Linked DNA regions of Homo sapiens. The protein of the gene in region 3 interacts with the protein of the main gene of each other region in a pairwise test. Each region holds a gene or a part of one and is shown on either strand. Other genes may lie near its edges.

Region 1 (3,500 bases), on a different chromosome or scaffold from region 3:
TTTATTTTAGGTCAACATTCAAACATACAAGAAATGTGTTGTTACAATTAAAATTTTTTTAAAAAGTAGTGGAGCATCATCTTCATCCCATCCCTCTTAAGCCCTGACTTGAACACCCTAAGAAACTTCTTGAATTATTCTGGGCTGGCCGCACACCTGTAATTCCAGCACTTTGGGAGGCCAAGGCAGGGGGATCACTTGAGGCCAAGAATTCGATACCAGCCTGGGCAACATAGCAAGACCCCCGTCTCTACAAAAGTAAGAAATTAGCTGGGCATGGTGGCACATGGCTGTAGTGCTAGCTACTCAGGAGGCTGAGGCAGGAGGATTGCTTGGGCTCAGGAATTCAAGGTTACTGTGAGCTATGTTTGTGCCACTGCACTCCAGCCTGAACAACAGAGTGAGAGCCTATCTCTAAAAAATAAAAAATTGGGGGAAACTATTGAATTATTTCATAGCTTTGTATTTTAAATTGTTTTATCTTTTAATTTTGACATAATTTTAGACTTGCAAAATAGTACAAATAATTTGTATATACCCTTTACTCAGATTCTCCAAATGTTAACTTCCTACATAAACACAATGCAATGATCAAAATCAGGAAATAACATCGATATAGTACTGTTACCCAACCTACAGACCTTATTTCAGTTTCACCAGTTGTCTCAATGATGTCCTTTTTCTGGTTCAGGATCAAATCCAGAATGCAATGTTGTATTTATTGTCATGTCTCTTAAGTCTCCTTTAATCTGAAATAGTTCCTCAGTCTTTGTTGTTCATGCCCTTGATGCTTTTGAAGAACACTGTCAGTTATTTTATAAAATATTTCTTAATTTGGGTTTGTCTGATATTTTCTCATGGTTAAATCCAGGTCATGCCTTTTTGGCAAGAGTACCACAGAAATGATTTTGTGCCCCCAGTGCATCATATCAGGAGACACTTATTATTGACTTATTCCATTACTGGTGATAATTAATTTTGATCATTTAAGTTGGTGCCTGCAAGGTTTCTCTGCTATAATGTTATAGGTTATACAAATATCCTGTTTCTTTATACTTTTGCCACCTAATTTTAGCACCCACTGTTGATTCTTGCCTGAAACAGTTACTACCATAGTATTTGCTAAATGGCAATTTTTAATTTTCATATAGATTTATTTCATGTATAATAATCAGGGTCCATATAGGAAATTAAGAGAGATTACTAAAATTATATTGCTGGTTTGAAATCTCACTGGGCATTCATGTGCTACTTCACTAAAGCCATTTTATATTCTTCTGTTTTTAAATCAAACATTGTCGCTCATCTCACACCATTCAGGGATCAGTCTTCTTTTTTCTTCCTATTCTACCAAAAAGGAAACTATAGTAAGATTGTGACTTTAATTTCACAAGTTTGGCCATCTTGTCTCCTGGAAGTTTGGTGTCTGGCTATCTGTTGGCAGGAGAAAAATCTGTCCTGAAGGGGGATAGGTCTTTCCTGTCTGTTCCATAATGAGCTCTGGTAATAAAATGCTCATATCCTTGCCTTAAAACCCAAACATTGGCCTTCTTACTTAAGATTGATGTCTGGGGAAGTCTTTAAGTTTCCTCATTAGAAACTTACTGGAAATGCTGACACGGATTTTATGCCTTTTATTTTCAGCCTGCCACAGTGACTCAGGTCACTCAAGGAACTATCCGACCAGCTGCCAACTTCGATGCTATAAGAGATGCAGAAATTCTTCGTAAGGCAATGAAGGGTTTTGGTAAGGAAAACAAATTTTTGTCTTTTTTAATAAGTTAAAGTAATCAGTTCTAAAGTAAAAATAAACCTTATCTCATAAACCCAAGTTTATGTGTCAGCCTGGGTGCGCATACCTGGATTTAATCTGATGTCTAGTGCCTTGTAAGCATTCTAAGAGATGACCTCAGGCTGGGTGTGGTGGCTTACACCTGTAGTCCCAGCACTTTAGGAGGCCGAGGTGGGCAGATCACCTGAGTTCAAGACCAGCCTGGCCAACATGGCGAAACTCCATCTGTACTAAAAATAAAAAGTAAAATAGTTGGGCATGGTGATGCATGCCTGTAATCCCAGCTTCACGGGAAGCTGAGGCAGGAGAATTGCTTGAACCTGGGAGGTGGAGATTGCAGTCAGCCTAGATCACACCATTGCACTTGCACCCCCAGTCTGGGTGACAAACTCCGTCTCAAAAAAAAAAAAAAAAAAAAAAGATGACCTCAAGCAGCACCTAGCATGTACTTTGTCCTTACTTAAACATGTGTGGTTCTTCCAGGGACAGATGAGCAGGCAATTGTGGATGTGGTGGCCAACCGTTCCAATGATCAGAGGCAAAAAATTAAAGCAGCATTTAAGACCTCCTATGGCAAGGTATGTTTTTCTTTCCTGGAATGAGCACCAGCAGTGGCTGGTAGACTCTGCATTCATGTCAGATTGGATACTATATTTTGATTAGTACCTGTGGTGCAAAAGAGGGACAACTAGACTTTAGAGACCTCAAGGGTACTGTATTCCCTATTTCTGTTTTTTGTTTTGTTTTGTTTTGAGATGAAGTCTCGCACCAACATCCAGGCTGGAGTGCAATGGTGCGATCTCAGCTCACTGCCGTCTTTGCTTCCCGAGTTCAAGCAATTCTCCTGCCTCAGCCTCCTGAGTAGCTGGGACTACAGGTGCACAGCATCATGCCTGGCTAATTTTTGTATTTTTAGTAGAGACAGAGTTTCACCATGTTGGCCAGGCTGGTCTCTAACTCCTGACCTCAAGTGATCCGCCTGCCTCAGCCTCCCAAAGTGCTGGGATTACAGGCGTGAGCCACCATGCCTGGCCTATTTCTCTTAAAAGGCTTTTTCATTCTAGAGTAGTCCTTGATCTCATAATCATACCTTACCCCAGTCACATATGTGATAGACATTCAGTAGAAAGTAGATCACAACTACAATCATGATCAAGAGGATGGTTCTCAGTCTTCTGCCTGTTACAGTGGGATTCAAGGCTTATTACATAGCCCTTGTTTATTCTTGGTCCTGGGCATCGCCTTCTGCTTCTCTCCCTTTCTCTAAACGTGTCCTATGTTAAAATTATATGGACTGAGCGTGGTGGCTTACGCCTGTAATCCCAGCACTTTGGGAGGCCAAAGCAGGAGAATTTCTTGAGGCCAGGAGTTCAGGACCAGCCTGGGCAACATAGGGAGACTTCATTTCCAACAACGATGACAACAAATTATATTAGCTGGGCGTGGTGGCGTGTGTCCATAGTCCCAGCTGCTTGGGAGGCTGAGGTAGAAAGATTGCTTGAGCCCAGGAAGTCAGGCTGTTAGTGAGCTGTGATTGTGTTACTGCACTGTAGCCTAGGTGACAGAACAAGACGCTGTCTCAAAAAAAAATAATATGGAAATGCTTGCCATTCTCTGTACACGCCATGATCTTTTATGCTTCTGTGTTGTGTACATGCCATTCTCCTGGCCTTGAATACCTTTTCTTTTTTTCATGGCAAACTTCTTT
Region 2 (3,542 bases), on a different chromosome or scaffold from region 3:
GAGTCAACTTCCTGCTTACTCCAACTCTGTATCTTTGAAGGAAGTATAGGGTGGTCTATGCCTTTTTTCTCCCAGAATCTACACTTGAAAAGACACATTTTTCCATGCAACTATAAAATGTTCTCCTCACTCAACATTGAAATTGTATAGCAGTGATTAAGAGAGTGAGCTGTAGAGCCAGGTTCCCTGGGTTTAAATCCCACTTGTTAGTATCATGAAGATGGGCAAGTTACTTACCCTTCCTGTGTTTCAGTTTCTTCATCTGCAAAATGGGGACAATAATAGAATGTCCACTATAAGATTATTGTGAGGATTAAGGGAATTAATACAGGTAAAACGTGTACTGATGCAGGTCTGGTACACATTAAGTGCCTAATAAATATTCAGTATTATGATATAAAGAACCCTATAAGTGTAGACTCCTTGAGATTAATAGAGTTTAACGATAAGTTTTACTTTATAGCTGGTCAAGTTTATTTCTTCTGAACTAAAAGAATCTATAGAGTCTCAATTTCTGGAGCTTCAGAGGGAAGGAGAGAAGCAATGTAAGCAACATTCTACAGAAATATAAATAATACTACTAATAATTAGCATCTTAAAATTTCAATTCAATGAACATTTATTTAGCGCCTATGATATATGCAAGACAGTTTGATTTTAGTCATCTGATGTATAGCCACATACTAAAAAATACTGATTTTAGTCATCTGATGTATAGCCACATACTAAAAAATACTTCCTCCATCAGTTCCCTCCTCAGGAAGTTCAGTTCCCAATCCCAGGCTAGTACCTTGGTTCCTTATGTAAATAAACATCCACCAATTACATGCTATCTGCAAAGCACTCTGCTAGGCCCTGCAAATGGAAAAAAAAATGATAAAACATAGTCCAGGCCCTCAATGAGCTTACAGTCAAATATAATAGAGGAGACAAGAACAGAGAGGCTCATAATACAACTAGAATAAAATGACTGCCGAATAAAAGGAAAGATTTATGCAGGTGTTCAAATGGAAAGTGAGATAAGTTTGCAGGTTAGTCTTTGCAGTCTCATAAAAATCTTTATGGAGAAAAGGACAATGGTCATAGGGCTTAAAGAGTAAGTTTATAATCCTGACCAGTGGAGATGAAAGACTAGCATTGAAAATTGCATGACAAGACAATTCCATTAAACTGAAACATCAAGTGTGTGTAGGAAAAGATGGGGGTTATGACTGGAAACGTCACTTGGACTGCAATTATGAAGGGCCTTGACAAACAGGTCAAGAGTTTAAGAAGCAGTATAGAAAGTCTTCGTCCTGGATCTAGCCCTCCCAGAGTGTCCATCAGGATTATAAAGTCCTTAAAATATTAGTCAAAAGGAACGACATCATTAGAAATGATAGAGAAACAATAATGTGATGTTTTATTACCTTTCTCTGGATTTATACTCTGATCCTAATATTCAAAACTATCTTAATAACATGAACTTTTGGTCATAGTTTTAAACAAAAACAGTGTTAAATATATTTTTTAAAACACAGTAAGTCTTGTAAGATCTTTTCTAACATGACATTTTGCAGGGCCCATATTTTCCTTCTGAAATGGGAAAAATTCATAAAAGTAGACACCAAACTGGGTTACTTCTAGTCAAGCGCATGGTACGCAAAGGACCAGACAAAAAGGGCCTGTGACATTTCTTCTTCCTTTTGTGTTTTTTAGGAGAGGCATGCTGCGGAGGTGCGCAGGAACAAGGAACTCCAGGTTGAACTGTCTGGCTGAAGCAAGGGAGGGTCTGGCACGCCCCACCAATAGTAAATCCCCCTGCCTATATTATAATGGATCATGCGATATCAGGATGGGGAATGTATGACATGGTTTAAAAAGAACTCATTATAAAAAAAAAAAAACAAAAAAAATCAAAAATTAAAAAAAATCAATGCGGTCTCTTTGCAGAATGTTTTGCTTGATGTTTAAAAAATACCTTGGATCTTATTTTGTAAATACTTACATTTTTGTTAAAAAATACAAGTATTGCATTATGCAAGTTATTTCATAATCTTACATGTCCTGTAACAGGCTTTTGATGTTGTGTCTTTCCACTCAAATGAATTTGCTAGGTCTGTTCTTTTTGAAGCTCCCCATGTCTAACTCCATTCCAAAAGAAAAATGAGGTCAGTAGACAGTCTATGGTGCTAGAAACCCACCATTGCCTAATGACCTAGAAGGCTTTGTTGTCTCTGAGCTTGACTAAGACCATACCTAGATCACAGGTATTATGACTCCACATGAACCTTCACATTTGTTCGCTCATAATCTACTTACTGCCTAAAAACTACAAAACCAGGCTAAGAAATACCACCAGTCATAGCATTTACTTCTGCTTCTCCTGGATTATGTGCTACAAATGTGCTTTGGCTTTAGAAAGGGATGGATGAGAAGACAGACCTGAGACCAATCTGGGTAGAAGCAAAAAGTTGAACCTTTTAAAGTGCTGAACACAAATCCAAATTCGAATGGTTCAAGCAGCCGTGAAATCGCTCTTCATAAAGTGGGCTTAATTCTCTAGTTTAAGTTCTTTTGATGGAATGAATTAATTAATGTGTCAGGTGGCTTATTTGTGGATGCCATGATTGATGATGTTCATTTTAAGCTCTTACCTATAGTACAAGTACATGATGCTACTGAATATTTTTCCACTTGGAAACTGTGAGCTGGTTGTTGCATTAAAACACACATACAAACAAAATCAAAAACACTGCGGACTTTCACTCAAGCTGGTCTTTCTTCCCCAGTGTAAGGCAATCCTGCCTACTAACAACACCAACAACAAAACACTCCATCTGTGAAGCTGACGCAGTTAAGGGGGCTAGGCAGGGCATTTGTGCCAACTAAGAATCACCAGATACCCACCATAAGTACCTATCGCAGTTTTGAAGTCGTTTCTCCCCAACTCCCAACTCCTGAAGGTTGCTGCCTGCATATTTACTCTTCATTAGTGCTATTTTCCTGTATGTCATTGTGAGCAAGCTGTGATTAATAAAGAATTGGAGTTCTGTGAACTAATAAAGGTTTGGTCTGTTCTCTTGCCTCTTCATGTGTCTGACCCTGGAGTTCAGATTTTAAAAGGGCAGCCACTGAATTAGACAATCTCACAAGCAAAGAGATAATAAGGAGAGTTTGAAGGAAACCAGTGCCCTGCTGAGTCATTTCCCTTTGGGAACAGCAGGCCGCATCTCTTTTCTCTTGCCCTCTGATGGGCCAACACTGTGGGAGAGGTCTTCAATCTGCTCCCTTTAAAAACATACAGGACTGAACAAGATACCACAAAATGCAGACTGATAATTCTGAGGAAGTGAGCCCTTTTCAAAACATTGAAGGTTCCTGGCATTATCTCAAGTTCTCCCCTGTGGCCCACAGAACGCCTCCCCCAGCCTAGGCCGTCTGTTAAGATGTGATCCCTGACGTACTGCTGAATTTTGTACTGCCAATAAACACACTGCACACATGGGCGCAGCAGGGTCCTGTCAGTGACCCAAATGGATCTTACAGGACCAAAGGAACCA
Region 3 (3,500 bases):
CTCAGGTTCCTAAATCTATGCTCTTCCTGTCCTTGGAGCAAGGATAGGTCCTGCCAGATCCAGGGTGGCACAGAGTTCCCCACCCAAAGCTGGAAGGGGTGAAGAAGATCTGGCCCTGTTCCTTCCCCTCCCTGTACAAGGAGGCAAGGACCCTGGCGTGCCCAGCCTCCTTCTCCTTATTCTGGAGTGCACATCCAGTAATTAAGAAAACATGAGTGAAGAATGAGCTTGGACATCTCCCTTGCATCCTGGCCGAAAGGGCAGACGACGCATGTGCAGATCTCAAAAGGGTGATCATATAGTTGTGCAGCTTGTGTACTGCTCAACAATATCCATCTGAGAGAGTGAGTGTGGGCTAAGAGCCAGCTCTCTAGCTTCAGTGGCTCCTGCCTTACCTGAGCCCTCTTGCCTGCAGGTCCGTCCCCACCCTCAGGATCCAAGCCCTTCAGCAGCATGGGGGTAGTGCCATGGGTGGGAAATTCTGCTGTCTAACCCCGGTCACTCCCATTTAGGCTGCATCTGAGCCCACACCTGTGTGGAGAGGAACTGAAGGCAGATGAGGCAGGAGGCTCCCTAGGGGAAGGCCTACCTTGCCTGGACCGGGTTAGCAGCCCAGCTCTGGCCCGCGGGGAGGGCTGGGTGGGAACCACGTTCAGATTATTCCTTAATCATGCTGGGAACATAGTACAGGCCTGGGAACTCTCAAAGAGAATTTGCCAAGAAACTTAGCGGCACCAGCTGGGTTATGCCGGAAAGCCTCCCGGCCGGCCAGTGCTTCTGGAGCCTGGAGGATGCGGCTCCGGGCCTCCTCCCCCTTTCCCAGTTGGCTGCCACCAACTTTCACAGGCTAGGGGTCAGGGTCCCTTGGAAGAGGGTGGGAGCCGATGAGAAGGCTGAAGGAGGAAGTCAGCGTCCTGGCAGGCAATAGGGGAGGGAGAGACTCCAGCTCCTGCGTCCCGGGTGCCCAAAAGAGCAGACGACTAAATCTGGTGTCCGCTGCGCTCAGGCGTGACGTTCTCCGACGTGGTGAGCGCGACCGAGCCGTGCAAGCCGTGCACCGAGTGCGTGGGGCTCCAGAGCATGTCGGCGCCGTGCGTGGAGGCCGACGACGCCGTGTGCCGCTGCGCCTACGGCTACTACCAGGATGAGACGACTGGGCGCTGCGAGGCGTGCCGCGTGTGCGAGGCGGGCTCGGGCCTCGTGTTCTCCTGCCAGGACAAGCAGAACACCGTGTGCGAGGAGTGCCCCGACGGCACGTATTCCGACGAGGCCAACCACGTGGACCCGTGCCTGCCCTGCACCGTGTGCGAGGACACCGAGCGCCAGCTCCGCGAGTGCACACGCTGGGCCGACGCCGAGTGCGAGGGTGAGTGCGGTTCGGGGGGCGGGGGGAGTGGGGGTGCGGGGGTGGGCTGGGGGCATAAGGAAGGGCGCTCTCTGGAGGTCGACAAGGACCCTGCCTGGCCTGCTGGGGCAGCTTGGTGACCTTGAGGCAGCGTGCACCTTCCCTGAGCTTCAGTCCTTTCCTGGTAACCTAAGGGAGGAGGTCATTCCCCATCCTGTCTCAGCAAAGAACCCCTCTCTGTGTTACCTTCTTTGGGCTGTTTGGAAAGTGGGCGTTCTCAGCGTCCCAGGCCGCGGGTACTACATTGTAACTCATCCTCCGGGACGCATTTCTCTGTGGCTTCCCGCTAGTGATTAGCTGAACAGCAAGCAGCTCGAAGGTGGCCACTACCCCCAGGGCACAGAACGGGAGAGGTCTGATCCATGAGGCAGGCTTTCTGAACTGGAAGAGCAGCTTGAGGACCCTCAGGAGCTGGGACCCTTTGACTCTGAGCCCTGGTCTAGGTCCATGGTGGGTTTTGGCTCTGGGACCTGAGATGGAACCCACCCTGTCCTTGACTGACGTTAGGGAGTCCACTCCTGTCTCTGGGCCTCGGTTTCCTCACTGGTCATATGGCTGCCAGGGTTGTTGCGGGTTAGGGAATACAGTGGGGCTGGCCCACTTCAGCTTGCCCTGTCTAGGGGAGGGGTCAACCGTGTTCCGCAGTTTAGTGAAGGATGAGGGGCATGCAGGGAACACTAAGGAGGGGCTCTGTGGAAGAAGAAGGAGGGGAGGGGCAGACCTGGGGCTCAAAAGCCCGGGGACAAGGCAGTGCATGCTCGTGGCTGTCAGCTCCAGGGATGGATGGGAGCTGGGCGTGCCCACCTTAGCCAAGCACAGGCCCCAAGGAGATGGGGTGGTTCTTGGGATGGGAGAAGGAAGCCCCGTGGGAGCCAGGGCAGAGCTGTTTTGGTCTCTGGTTGGTGACGTCCGTCTCAGGGGAGACTGGTGGGCTTTTCCACTTCGGGGAGAGGCTGGCAGTGCCTTTACATCCTGTCCATCATCCTGTGGCCATGCACACATTGAGCTATTTCCCTTTGAGAACTAACCTGCATCCTCAGGTTGCCTTTACCCTGAGCAGGCAATATAGTACCTCCTTCAGTGAGCCCCCAGTTTGATGGGAGAGATAGCCTTCGCCCAGTCTAATGAGAGAGACGTGGTCCCAGCACTTAGTCCCCAGCTGAAGGAGAGATAGCTCTCACTTTAGAGATCCCCCATTCTGATGGAGGCAGCAGAGCTTCTGCCTCAGTTAGCACCCAGATCTCCTGCCCCTGGGGACCCTCCAGTCTGATAGGGGCTCCAACCCACACCTGCCTTCCAAGTCCTGCCATCTCTGGCTTTAGGAGCTCAGGATGGGGAGGGCTGTTACGCTGGGCTAAGGCCAGGTTGAGCTCAAAGCTTCCTGCCTTGGAGAAGGAATGAGGAGTAGGATGTGGTGGTTCTGTTGGCAATTGCCCTGGGCCAGGAGACAGGCAAGTGGCATCAGGCGCCAGGCAGAGCGCAGGAAGGGTTTCAGCAGCCAGGCATCAGGCAAGCAGGCAGCTCATTTCTGTAGGCAAGTCCAGACCAGCCAGCTGGGGGCGGGGCGGGGGGACTTGGGGGCGCTGCTAGAGCAAAGAAAGGTGGTGACTGTGGGAGGAGCAGGCTTTGTCTTTTGGGGCATTCACAGATTCCTCTCAGATACCAGCCCACTTTCCCAGCCACCCCGAAGGAGGAGGGTGCTCCTGAGGGAGTGTTCATACCAGACCCTGTTCCCCTTTCAGCTTCAGGCTCTGAAGGGTTAAATGTCAGCTCTGGGACAAGAGACCATTTCAGGAAATGGAATTTGATTCTTGGTTTTGTTGCCCCCTCCCCTCCAGCGTACCATACTTTCCCCGCATTTACTTACGTTTCAGGTGTCAACATGGTGACTCACCCACCCTCAGGGCAGAAGGGCTACCCGCTGCCCCAGTGAAATTCGGTTTGAATAGGGATAACCTGGTCCCTCCATGCAGCCCGGAAATGGCTGTCAGGACCTGCCAAGGGCTTAGTAGGTTGGAATGCTAGTGGACGTGGCCACATCTGGATCTCATCCCCCCGCCCCCGTCAGAGGGGATTGGAGAGATGAGGGCAGCTC
Region 4 (3,500 bases), on a different chromosome or scaffold from region 3:
GAAGCAGGAACAAAGTGCCATCACAAACACTGCTCTCTGTACCTCGGCTCCCCCGAGAGTGGACATCACAGCCTATTGGGGAATTGGGTAAGAACCATGACCCCCAGGTCCCAACTAGACAGAGTGTAGGCAGCCCCACTCACCATCCTTGGTCACAGCATACCCCACAGAGGCCCCACAAGCCACCGAGGAGACAGCAGGCAGCCTGGAGATGAGGGTGGGTATGCTCTTCTCCTCAGCACCCTCTCCAAGGCCCAGCCGCCCATACTCAGCCCGGCCCAGGCTGTATGCTTTTCCTATGGGAGGAGGGAGAGAGATGAGCAATAGCAGAGGGCGTGCTACAGGCAAAATGGGTGGCAGGCTAGGTGAGTCCACCTGTCCATGGGAGTGTGTCCCTGCTCCCAGAGCGATCAGAAGGAGATCTGCAGTGTCTCTTCCCAGTTTTGGAGGAGGCCTAGGAGAATCTACATGGGCCCCCATTGAACTCACACTTGGAAGAACACCAGGACTCTAGGAGGATGAGAGTGACTCTCATGGACCCATGTATGGTACAACCCATGGAACAGACCCAGGCTCCAAGGACCATGGTCTCAGGAATCTGGCTAGGCCTAGGCCAGGGAACACTCCACCCCCAAACTAGAGAAGGACGTAAAGGCCCTACCTTCCGAATCCATGCAGACTGTATGGTGCTGGCCACCAGAGAAGCCCACCCAGGACTTGGTGGAATTCTTGAAGGATGTTAGGTTCTGGGGTATGAAGCAAGATTCTGTGCCCGGAGTTCCTGGGGGAAAGGCCGGAGCCATCAGGGGTGAAGGTGTTCTGAGAGCTGCCCTTCTCAATCTCCTCCCACAGTGAGGCCACCTCCCATCAGGATATGGACATTCTCACTTTACAGATGACAAAACTGGCTTGGAGGGGTTAGACGACCCCGCAAAGGATGCACAATGAATGAGTGGCAGAGCCAGGACAGGAACGCAGGCCACTGGGTCATGCCTGAAGCTGGGCTCGGGGCTCACCAAGCTGATGGTAGTTGGAGAGGCCGAAGCCGTACACGTGGCCCTCATGGGAGATGGCAAAGGTGAAATAGGCACCACAAAAGGCATCCTGGAATCTCACGTGGCCCCGGCTTCCCCTGGATTTCAGCATCACACACTTGGGGACCAGGAGTCGTTCTGCAGGCAAAGGGAAAGCCACGGTCAGTGACAGACAGACACACATGGCTTCTCTCTGCCCCGAGTTTAATTCTCCTCCATTATAAAAGCCCTTGAGAGGCTAAGTAGGGACTCTTATCCCTATTTTATAGAAAAGGAAACTGAGATCAAGAGAATACAAGTGCCTTGCTCAGATTCCCACAGTCATTACGGGTATCATTTACGTGGAACTTACCATCTGCCTGATATTCTTCTCATTAACTCATTTAACTTCACAGCAACCTAATGAAGTAGGTTTACAGGTAGGTAGACTTAGTGATGAAGAAACTATGTTCAGAGTCCCATAGACAGTAGGTGGCAAAACTACCAGAGCAGTCTGTCTCCAAAGTCCTAACCAACACCACAAGCCCATCTGATGCAAGCCTGACCACAGCAAATCCTTCCTGCCTTTGGCCTTCACTGTGGGGGTGGCCTGCCAATTTGCCCTGCTGGAGGTACCAAGGCCACTTACCGAGGCCTTGCCGGCCACCACGGTTGGCAAATAACTCAGGCACACGGCCTAGCTGGCCCTGTTCCCCGCAGCCCAAGGTGTAGAGGTCACCATCAGCTGTCAGCATCACCAAGTGGTCGTTTCCTAAGGATGAAAAGGTAAGGGATGCAGGCCACAACTGTAAGGCCCAAGGCTAGGCCAGCCCCAGAACAAGGTCCTCCAACTCCTGCCCTGAGCAAGTGCCCCCAGACCCACCTGAGGCCACCTTTACCACAGGCACATCCAGCTGCACCTGCACAGGCACCATGCTCTTCTTCATGGGCTCCAACAGTCCAATCACACCGTTATTGTCCTAGAAGGGAGGGACAGGGCACTTATCAGCCAGTCCTGCCTGCCCCGTGCCAGTGAAATCCAGAAGGGCAGTGGCACCAGATGGGGATGGAGAAGTGGGCAGGAGCCAGGCCACATACTCAAATACTTATGAATGAAATCATTTATGGTCTGCGACTTGCATTAAAATAATCAAGGAGTCAGAGAGCGGATGCAAATAGAGATAAACAAGTCTGGCCACAAGCTGATAATCATTGAAACTGTGTGGCAAGTAAATGGGCACTCAATATACTATTCTGGGCCAGGCATGGTAATTCATGCCAGTAATCCTAGCACTTTGGTAGGCCCAGGTGGGCAGATCGCTTGAGCTCAGGACCAGCTTGGGCAACACGGTGAAACCCCGTCCCTACAAAAAATACAAAAATTAGCTGGGCGTGGTGGCACAAGCCTCTAGTACCAGCTACTTGCGAGGCTGAGGTGGAAGAAATCACCTGAGCCCAGGAAGTTGAGGCTGTAATGAGCTAAGACGATGCCATTGCACTCTGGCCTGGGTGACAGAGCAGGATCTCGTCTCTAATTAAAAAAGAAAAGAGGCCGGGCGCGGTGGCTCATGCCTGTAATCCCAGCACTTTGGGAGGCCAAGGCGGGCGATCACGAGGTCAGGAGATCGAGACCATTCCGGCTAACACGGTGAAATGCCGTCTCTACCAAAAAATACAAAAAATTAGCCGGGCGTTGTAGCGGGCGCCTGTAGTCCCAGCTACTCGGGAGACAGAGGCAGGAGAATGGCGTGAATCAGGGAGGCAGAGCTTGCAGTGAGCCGAGATCGCGCCACTGCACTCCAGCCTGGGCGACAAAGCGAGACTCCGTCTCAAAACAAAGAAAAAAGAAAAGAGGCCAGACGTGGCGGCTCAAGCCTGCAATCCAGCACTCTGGGAGGCCCAGACGGGCGGATCACCTGAGATCAGAAATTCACAACCAGCCTGGCCAACATGGTGAAACCCCGTCTCTACTAAAAATACAAAAATTAACCAGGTGTGGTGGCGCATGCCTGTAATCCCAGCTACTCGGGAGGCTGAGGAAGGAGAATTGCTTGAGCCCGAGAGGCAGAGGTTGCACTGAGCCGAGATTGTGTCATTGCACTCCAACCTGGGTGATAGAGCAAGACTCTGTCTCAAAAAAAAAAAAAAAAAAAAAAAAAAAAAAAAAAAAAAAAAAAAAAAAAAGAAAAGAAAAGAAAAGAAAAAAATATAATTCTGATATTCTGATTACTTCCTTTTTTTTTTTTTTTTTTTTTTTTTGAGACAGAGTTTCGCTCTTGTTGCCCAGGCTGGAGTGCAATGGCGCGATCTCGGCTCACTGCAACCTCCGCCTCCCAGGTTCAAACAATTCTCCTGCCTCAGCCTCCCGAGTAGCTGGGATTACAGGCATGCACCACCATGTCCAGCTAATTTTGTAATTTTAATAGAGACAGGGTTTCTCCATGTTGGTCAGGCCGGTCTCGAACTCCCGACCCCTCAGGTGATCAG

Evidence for each region. The genes of interacting proteins can lie anywhere in the genome.
Region 1: the proteins of NGFR (region 3) and ANXA7 interact in a two-hybrid assay, tested with the Homo sapiens proteins (one large-scale study listed by BioGRID and IntAct).
Region 2: the proteins of NGFR (region 3) and STMN2 interact in a two-hybrid assay, tested with the Homo sapiens proteins (one large-scale study listed by BioGRID and IntAct).
Region 4: the proteins of NGFR (region 3) and RCC1 interact in a two-hybrid assay, tested with the Homo sapiens proteins (one large-scale study listed by BioGRID and IntAct).

Annotation. Positions count from the first base shown.
Region 1 is NC_000010.11:73,386,559-73,390,058, reverse strand, and holds part of ANXA7 (annexin A7), read left to right. Parts: intron 1-1,644; coding exon 1,645-1,747; intron 1,748-2,275; coding exon 2,276-2,370; intron 2,371-3,500. UniProt on the Homo sapiens protein: Calcium/phospholipid-binding protein which promotes membrane fusion and is involved in exocytosis.
Region 2 is NC_000008.11:79,663,117-79,666,658, forward strand, and holds the end of STMN2 (stathmin-2), read left to right. Parts: intron 1-463; coding exon of another isoform or gene 464-545; intron 546-1,698; coding exon 1,699-1,758; 3' UTR 1,759-3,042; downstream 3,043-3,542. UniProt on the Homo sapiens protein: Regulator of microtubule stability. When phosphorylated by MAPK8, stabilizes microtubules and consequently controls neurite length in cortical neurons.
Region 3 is NC_000017.11:49,505,293-49,508,792, forward strand, and holds part of NGFR (tumor necrosis factor receptor superfamily member 16 precursor), read left to right. Parts: intron 1-364; exon of another isoform or gene 365-1,006; coding exon 1,007-1,366; intron 1,367-3,500. UniProt on the Homo sapiens protein: Low affinity receptor which can bind to NGF, BDNF, NTF3, and NTF4. Forms a heterodimeric receptor with SORCS2 that binds the precursor forms of NGF, BDNF and NTF3 with high affinity, and has much lower affinity for mature NGF and BDNF.
Region 4 is NC_000001.11:28,533,543-28,537,042, reverse strand, and holds part of RCC1 (regulator of chromosome condensation), read right to left. Parts: intron 1,994-3,500; coding exon 1,897-1,993; intron 1,786-1,896; coding exon 1,663-1,785; intron 1,173-1,662; coding exon 1,017-1,172; intron 782-1,016; coding exon 662-781; intron 297-661; coding exon 144-296; intron 1-143. UniProt on the Homo sapiens protein: Guanine-nucleotide releasing factor that promotes the exchange of Ran-bound GDP by GTP, and thereby plays an important role in RAN-mediated functions in nuclear import and mitosis.